Homo sapiens: one gene and its partner. The protein of the gene in region 1 purifies or fractionates together with the protein of each later gene. This does not show direct contact. Each region holds a gene or a part of one and is shown in the gene's direction. Other genes may lie near its edges.

Region 1 (3,500 bases):
GGCCCTCAGAGACCTTCTGGTGCCAACCTCTGTAGTTTCTGTACAAGGCATCTGATGCCCAGAATGGTCAGGTGGCCACAGTTCTCTCAGCTGGTCAGTCACAGAGCCAGGGCCAGCACCTGGGCAGGGGGACCCCCACTGTACCCAATCCCACCCAGCTATCCCACCCCCACTTATTTACATGGTAGATGTGGCACCCATGGGTCTGAGCAGGTCTGGGCTCCCCCACAGCCAGTGTCAGATGGCAGCGGTTAGCACTGGCTTCCCTGGCCTGCTGCCCTGATCAGGCCCCACTCTCTTGACCTTGGTGGGCACTGTACCTCCATCCAGCTGGGATCTGCCCATGTGCCCCTGCAAGCTGCTTATGTCCAGAGGGAAACACTGCCCATCAGTGGTGCCAGGCCAGGTCTTTCCTCACCTGTGGACTGAGGGGAAGGGGCTAATGGTGGCCAGGTCTTTCCTCACCTGTGGACTGAGGGGAAGGGGCTAAGGGTGCCAGAGAGCAAGAGGAAGGAAGGTACAGGAAGCTGACACAGTGGGAGGTCCAGCCCCTGGCTACCTAGGGTGCCTGAAGTTCACCATCGCTAGATGCAGGCCTTAGGCATGTAGGTGAGCCAGTCTAGTTGAAGTAGGATGAGGCCCTGGCTGTGCCTTGCTGGGCGGCCCTTGGCCTTGTGCTTTCAGGGTGGTGCCTGCTCTGTCCCAGGAGACTCTGACTGGGCCCTGGGCCTCCCTCGGCTGGTCCTGTGGTGCATCAGCACCTGGGCCCAGTGCTGGGTGGGATGGGCCTGCCACTAGGGTGGACAGAACACGGTGGTCTCCCCCAAAGTAGTGGAATCACCTCCTCCCATGGGGCATCCATCCCCAGCAGCTGTCCACACAGTGCTGAGTGGGAATCCATGCCCATCGGGCCTTGAAGGCAGGATGGATGGACAGCCAAACCTTGCCGTCTCTTCTAGAAGGCTAGCTCCCTGGCTGTGGGTCCAAGCGGATCAGCAGCAGCTGTACTGGGACATGACTGGGCTTTGACTGGCTTAAAGAGCACGGAGTGCTGGCAACCCCACTGTCGGGGGCTCAGGCTCCTAGCAGGAGGGGTCTGCCCTGAGGCTTTCAACAAGGGCCTCAGTTCCTCACAGGAGCCTGATGAGGTCCCCTGGGTTTAGTGCAGGTGCCAGCACAACATCTGGCCCATCCACGGTGTCACATGTGGTGGGCTTCCATCGCCCACCCTCCGCTCCAGGTCTCCGTCCACAGGTTTTCTCCTCTGGGAGAAAATCCACTGGTTTTCTCGTCTGGAATTCTCTGTCACTGCAGCCCCTTCCCCTCCCTTTCTCCTTGTCTTAGGTTCTTCCTGGGTGCTCCACCCTGGCCCTCTTCTTTTCCTGCCCCTGTACCTAGACCTGCCCTCAAGTGGGGGACTGAGGAGCAACCCCTTCCTCTCCCTTCCTCAGACCCAGAGCTTGGACCCTTAGCTCCGGGGGGGCCGCTGGGGCCTGCTCAGGGCTCCATCAGCCTTAGGCCAGCCCCAAGATGCTGATTGAAGATGAAGGTGATAAAGTGTGTGTCACTCGTTTGTCTAGCCTGATTTATTAGCAGTGTTTGGAGTATAATTATTCTATAGTAAAATATCTATGAGAGAGTAATATCCCAATTGGTGTGGCTCCTGGGTCTAATTGCTCCCACTCAGGCCTGTCAACAGCGGTGCAGCAGTCACTTCCTTTGAGAACTGGGAGGGAGGGTCTGTGAGGAGCAAGTAAACATATGGCCTCAATGACTCATGCCTCCGAAGGGCTGAGGGAGGGGCCAGGAGACATGCCTGGCCTATGTCCTTCCACCAACCTGGGGCCACCAGCATTTTCCTGCTCAGTCCAGGGAGGCTGGAAGTGGAAGCACAAGAACTGTAGGCAGTCCACAGAAGCTGAGTCCAAATCCCATATAGACAACCCTGAGCAGAGACAGGCTTCCTCCAACCAGGGACAGCCTCACAGGGTGACTGTGGATGTGTGCAGAGGTGAGATCCTATGAGCCCAGGGCTTTGGTCGAGGAAGAAGGCCTTCCTGAGGCTCCACAAGGGAGGAAAGGGCATGGGTGCCCAGGCTAGGAGCAGCTCCCCCAACTCGCAACCCCCTGAGGCTCTAGCTGAATGGGCACCTGCCTTAATGCTAGGGGCTGGCTGTAGGCTGGGGCTTCTGTGCCACATGCTCTCCTCTGGGCCCCAGGGCAGGAATGAGCCTGCCTCCTGCCTCCCTCCACTCTGTCACCACTCTACTGATTAAGCATATACTATGCGCCTTTACTAGCTACATACTTTATTTTGAAACCGTTTAATAACCCTGAGGAAGAGGTCATTATTTTTCCTATGTACATTTTTCCCCAATTAAATCAATCAAATTATGTGCAAATATTTAGGAAAAGTAATATATGCACATGGTAAAAAATTTCAAACAAGACAATAATTATTCAGTGTAAGGAAGTTTTCTTCCTACGAACCCAGGTCCCCTCCCCAAAGGCAGCCAGACTGGAAACCAGCCCAAGAAATGTGAAGTGACCTGCCCAAGGTCACAGGGTAGTAAAGCTGGAGTTTGAACTCAGGACTAGCTGGTCTCTTTTGAGTCATGAAATTTCCACTTTGTCAGACAGATTCTTGCCCAGTGTGTCAAAAGAGTCTGCGTTCTCTTGAAAAGCTCGAATCTCCTTGGTGGGAGACTTTCCTTCCTGGTAAGGTGGAACTTGGAGATCATACAGAGTAGGCTCAAGCCCTTGCTGTACCCAAAACAGCTGTACGCCTTGGGCAGCCATTTAATCTCAATTGTTCATTCCTTCGAAGGATGGTCTTGACCTCATCAGGTTGTTTTGAAAGAGCCACCATAGCTTGTGGCTTCATATGTAAGAGCCGACTCTCATCAGGTGAAGCAAGAAGGTAGTGTTCCTGTTGCAGCTCCTGAGTGATTGGCTGAGTTTGTTCCAAAGGGGCAGCCCTGTTTGCTTTGAGTAGGCCCCAGATCACCCAGAGATTTTCAGGTCATCTTGCTTGACCAGGGGCTCAGCCATCCGACAGACTGGTCCAATGTGCAAGCCTGGGCTTTATTTACTCCCAGCCTTACCACCTGCTAGTGTGAAAAGTTGAGCAGACCATGAGACTTCCATGTTAAGTGGGAATTTTCACAGTGCTGCACCAGGGTTAGATGAAGGTGAGATGGGGGATTGCACATAAGGTTCTGAGATCAGTGCTTGTCTCCTACTGCATCGTTATTGTTTTATCATTATTAATGTTTAAGCTCTTAGAGTCAAAATAATAATGCCTGGAGCGTGGGTCCACTCTTTTCCCTGGGACTCCATTATTTCTCTTTGAAGCACAGGAGCCAATCCCCCTGGTCCCTATCAGGAGCCACACAGTTTTGGTTGAAGAGGGAGGGGCTGAGAGTCTGGTAGGCTCATGGGTGTGGTTATCCAGCGCAGGGGCCAGAGAAGTGCCCTATGCTCTTCTTTCCCCACCGTGC
Region 2 (3,500 bases), on another chromosome or scaffold:
GGCAAAACCCCATCTCTCCTAAAAATACAAAAATTAGCCGAACGTGGTGGCGGGTGCCTGTAATCCCAACTACTCTGGAGGCTGAGGCAGAGAGAATTGCTTGAACTCGGGAGGCGGAGGTTGCCGTAAGCCGAGATTGCACCACTGCACTCTAGCCTGGGCGACAGAGTGAGACTCTGTCTCAGAAAAGAATAATCTACTGGTTTCAACTTTTCTTTGGTTAAGATCCTCTTTCAGAATCTTTTGGAAACTTTGAATTCTTATCTCAGAAAAATATATACATTCATCAGTTGCAGAGAGTTCAAAGATTCCGGGGTCCACCTGTAGAAGCCAGGTTCAGAATCCCTGGAAAGGTGTGATGCTGAGTAATCAGCTGTTTGGGACACATTAGTCACATTTCAGTACATGGACTAAAGATTAGCTTGTCCCAAAGCCAAGGTCCTATCTTGAGAGCCTTTTTTATTAATTAATTAATTAATTTATTTATTTATTTTGAGACGGAGTCTCGCTCTGTCACCCAGTCTGGACTGCAGGGGCACAGTCTCTGCTCACTGCAACCTCTGCCTACCAGGTTCAAGTGATTCTCCTGCCTCAGCCTCCCAAGTAGCTGGGATTACAGGCATGTGCCACCATGCCTGGCTAATTTTGTATTTTTAGTAGAGATGGGATTGCACTGTGTTGGCCAGGCTGGTCTCGAACTGCTGACCTCAAGTGATCCACCCGCCTCAGCTTCCCAAAGTGCTGGGATTACAGGCGTGAGCCACTGCGCCCAGCCTTGAGAGCCTTTTGTTAAAATGATTATAATAGGATATTTTCCTCATTTGTTTTAAAAATTTTTTTTCTTTGAAAATGGTTATTATTTAATGAAAAAATTCAGTTTAGTGCTCTCAGTTTAAATATTATATGGGCTACTTCATACTAAATGTGTTTTAAGTTGACCCTCTTCAAATTTTAGTGTCCCTTTGAAAGGTAACCATTGATTTTCTTGATTTACTGACATGGGGGTGGCAGAGCTAAACTGTTTTCAGAAGCACTTCTATTTATTTATTTATTATTGTTATTTTTTGGTAGAGACCAGGTATTACTATGTTGCCCAGGCTGGTCTTCAGCTTCTGGCCTCAAGCAGTCTTCCTGCCTTGGCCCCTCAAAGCTGAGATTATAGGCTGGAGCCACCGTGCCTTGCCTAGGAGTCTCTCTTCTAATCCCGACTTTATATGAAAGCTTGCTGAGTTGTTCAGTCTGAATACCAGGTTCCCAGGCCTCTTTAGTGGATCCATCAGTTTTCAGTGTTGTTAACCAGTAAGGAATCATGTTCCCGGACGCTTTTTTGAGACAGAGTCTTGCTCTGTCGCCTAGGCTAAAGTGCAGTGGCACGATCTCAGCTCACTGTAACCTCTGCCTCCCAGGCTCAAGCGATCATCCCACCTCAGCCTCCCAAGTAGCTGGGACTACAGTGGAGTACTGGCATGCCCAGCTAATTTTTGTATTTTTTTAGAGTCCAGGTTTTGCCATGTTGCCCAAGCTGGTCTCGAATCCCTGAATGCAAGTGATCCGCCCGCCTCAGCCTCCCAAAGTACTACAGTTATAGGTGTGAGCCACCATCCCCAGCCAATCTCATCATATTTTACTGAATATAGCCACATATGGCTAGTAGAGTAGCTTCATTATTGGATAGTGCGGTCATAGAGCTCTATACAATGCCTTGGACAGGCACTGGTGAATGTTTCTTGTGATTAAATTAGGAAATAAGCTTTTCTTGTCTTGTTCATAATAGGATAAAATGATGACAGAGAGAACCCTGTTGAAAGAGCGTTACCAGGAGGTCCTGGACAAACAGAGGCAAGTGGAGAATCAGCTCCAAGTGCAATTAAAGCAGCTTCAGCAAAGGAGAGAAGAGGAAATGAAGAATCACCAGGTATTTTGCTTATATTGAAATTGTCAATGAGTTAAGCAACAGTCTCTGATCAAACTTTAATTTTTTAAAAAACTTTATTTATTTATTTATTTATTTTTGAGACAGAGTCTCACTCTGTCACTCAGGCTGGAATGTGGTAGCATAATCTTGGCTCACTGCAGCCTCTGTCTCCTGGGCTTAAGTGATCTTCCCACCTCAGCCTCCCAAGTAGCTGGGAACACAGGTGTGTGCCACTATGCCTGGCTCATTTTTTGTATTTTTGGTAGAGACGGGGTTTTGTCATGTTGCCCAGGCTGGTCTTGAACTCCAGACTCAAGAAATCCACCCGCCTTGGCCTCCGAAAGGAGGCCTTTTTATTTCAGTTAACTCAAAAATAAAATTAAAGTTTGAGCCATCCATGCCCGGCTCAAACTTTAATTTTATTTTTGAGTTAATTGAAATAAAAAGGCAAGGCGGGGTGTGGTGGCTCACACCTGTAATCCCAACACTTTGAGAGGTTGAGGCGGGTGGATCAGTTGGGTCCAGGAGTTCGAACCAGCCTGGGCAACATGGCAAAATCCCATCTTTACCAAAAATACAAAAAATGAGCCGGGCGTGGTGGTGTGCACCTGTGGTCCCAGCTACATGGGAGGCTGAGGTGGGAGGATCGCTTAAACCCAGGAGGCAGAGGTTGCAGTGAGCCGAAATTGTGCCACTGCACTCCAGCCTGAGTGACAGAACGATACCCTGTCTCAAAAAAAGTATTAATACTCATAGACTTTTTTTTTTTTTTGAGACGGAGTCTCGCTCTGTCACCCAGGCTGGAGTGCAATGGCACAATCTCGGCTCACTGCAAGCTCCGCCTCCTGGATTCACGCCATTCTCCTGCCTCAGCCTCCCAAGTAGCTGGGACTACAGGCGCCCGCCACTACGCCCGGCTAATTTTTTGTATTTTTTTTAATAGAGACGGGGTTTCACCATGTTAGCCAGGATGGTCTCGATCTCCTGACCTCATGATCCACCTGCCTCGGCCCCCCAAAGTGCTGGGATTACAGGCGTGAGCCACTGCGCCAGACCACTCATAGACTTTTAATAAAGAATGTTCGGATAAATTAGATACATCCATATGTTATGCAGCTATTTTTGAATTAGATCGATACTTATTGACAATACATTCATGTCAAGTAAAAGAAATCAGAATGCAAAATAATGTATGTAAAATGACCCCATTTAAAAATAACAACAACAACAACAACAAAGAAATGCATACCTAAGTATACATGTCTTTGTGTGAGCATAGAGAAAGATGTGAAAGCATAATACAAAGCAGTTAACACATTGATTACTCTTATGGGTGGAAGTGGTATGAAGTGGGGGAGTGACTCTTTATCACCTTTGTATTATTTTACTTTTTTTTTGATACTGGATCTTGTTTTGTTGCCCAGACTGGAGTGTAGTGGGTACAATCAAGGCTCACCGTATCTTTGACTTTCTGGGCTCGAGCTATCCTTCCACCTCAGCCTCTCGAGTATCTGGACTACAGGCATGTGCCACCACACCTGGCTAATTTTTTTTATTTTTTGTGAGACAAGATCTCTGTATGTTG

Evidence for each region. The genes of interacting proteins can lie anywhere in the genome.
Region 2: the proteins of EEFSEC (region 1) and RNF214 purify together in Homo sapiens (affinity purification with mass spectrometry; one large-scale study listed by BioGRID and IntAct). This does not show direct contact.

Annotation. Positions count from the first base shown.
Region 1 is NC_000003.12:128,341,981-128,345,480, forward strand, and holds part of EEFSEC (selenocysteine-specific elongation factor), read left to right. Parts: intron 1-3,500. UniProt on the Homo sapiens protein: Translation factor required for the incorporation of the rare amino acid selenocysteine encoded by UGA codons. Replaces the eRF1-eRF3-GTP ternary complex for the insertion of selenocysteine directed by the UGA codon.
Region 2 is NC_000011.10:117,242,671-117,246,170, forward strand, and holds part of RNF214 (RING finger protein 214), read left to right. Parts: intron 1-1,774; coding exon 1,775-1,915; intron 1,916-3,500.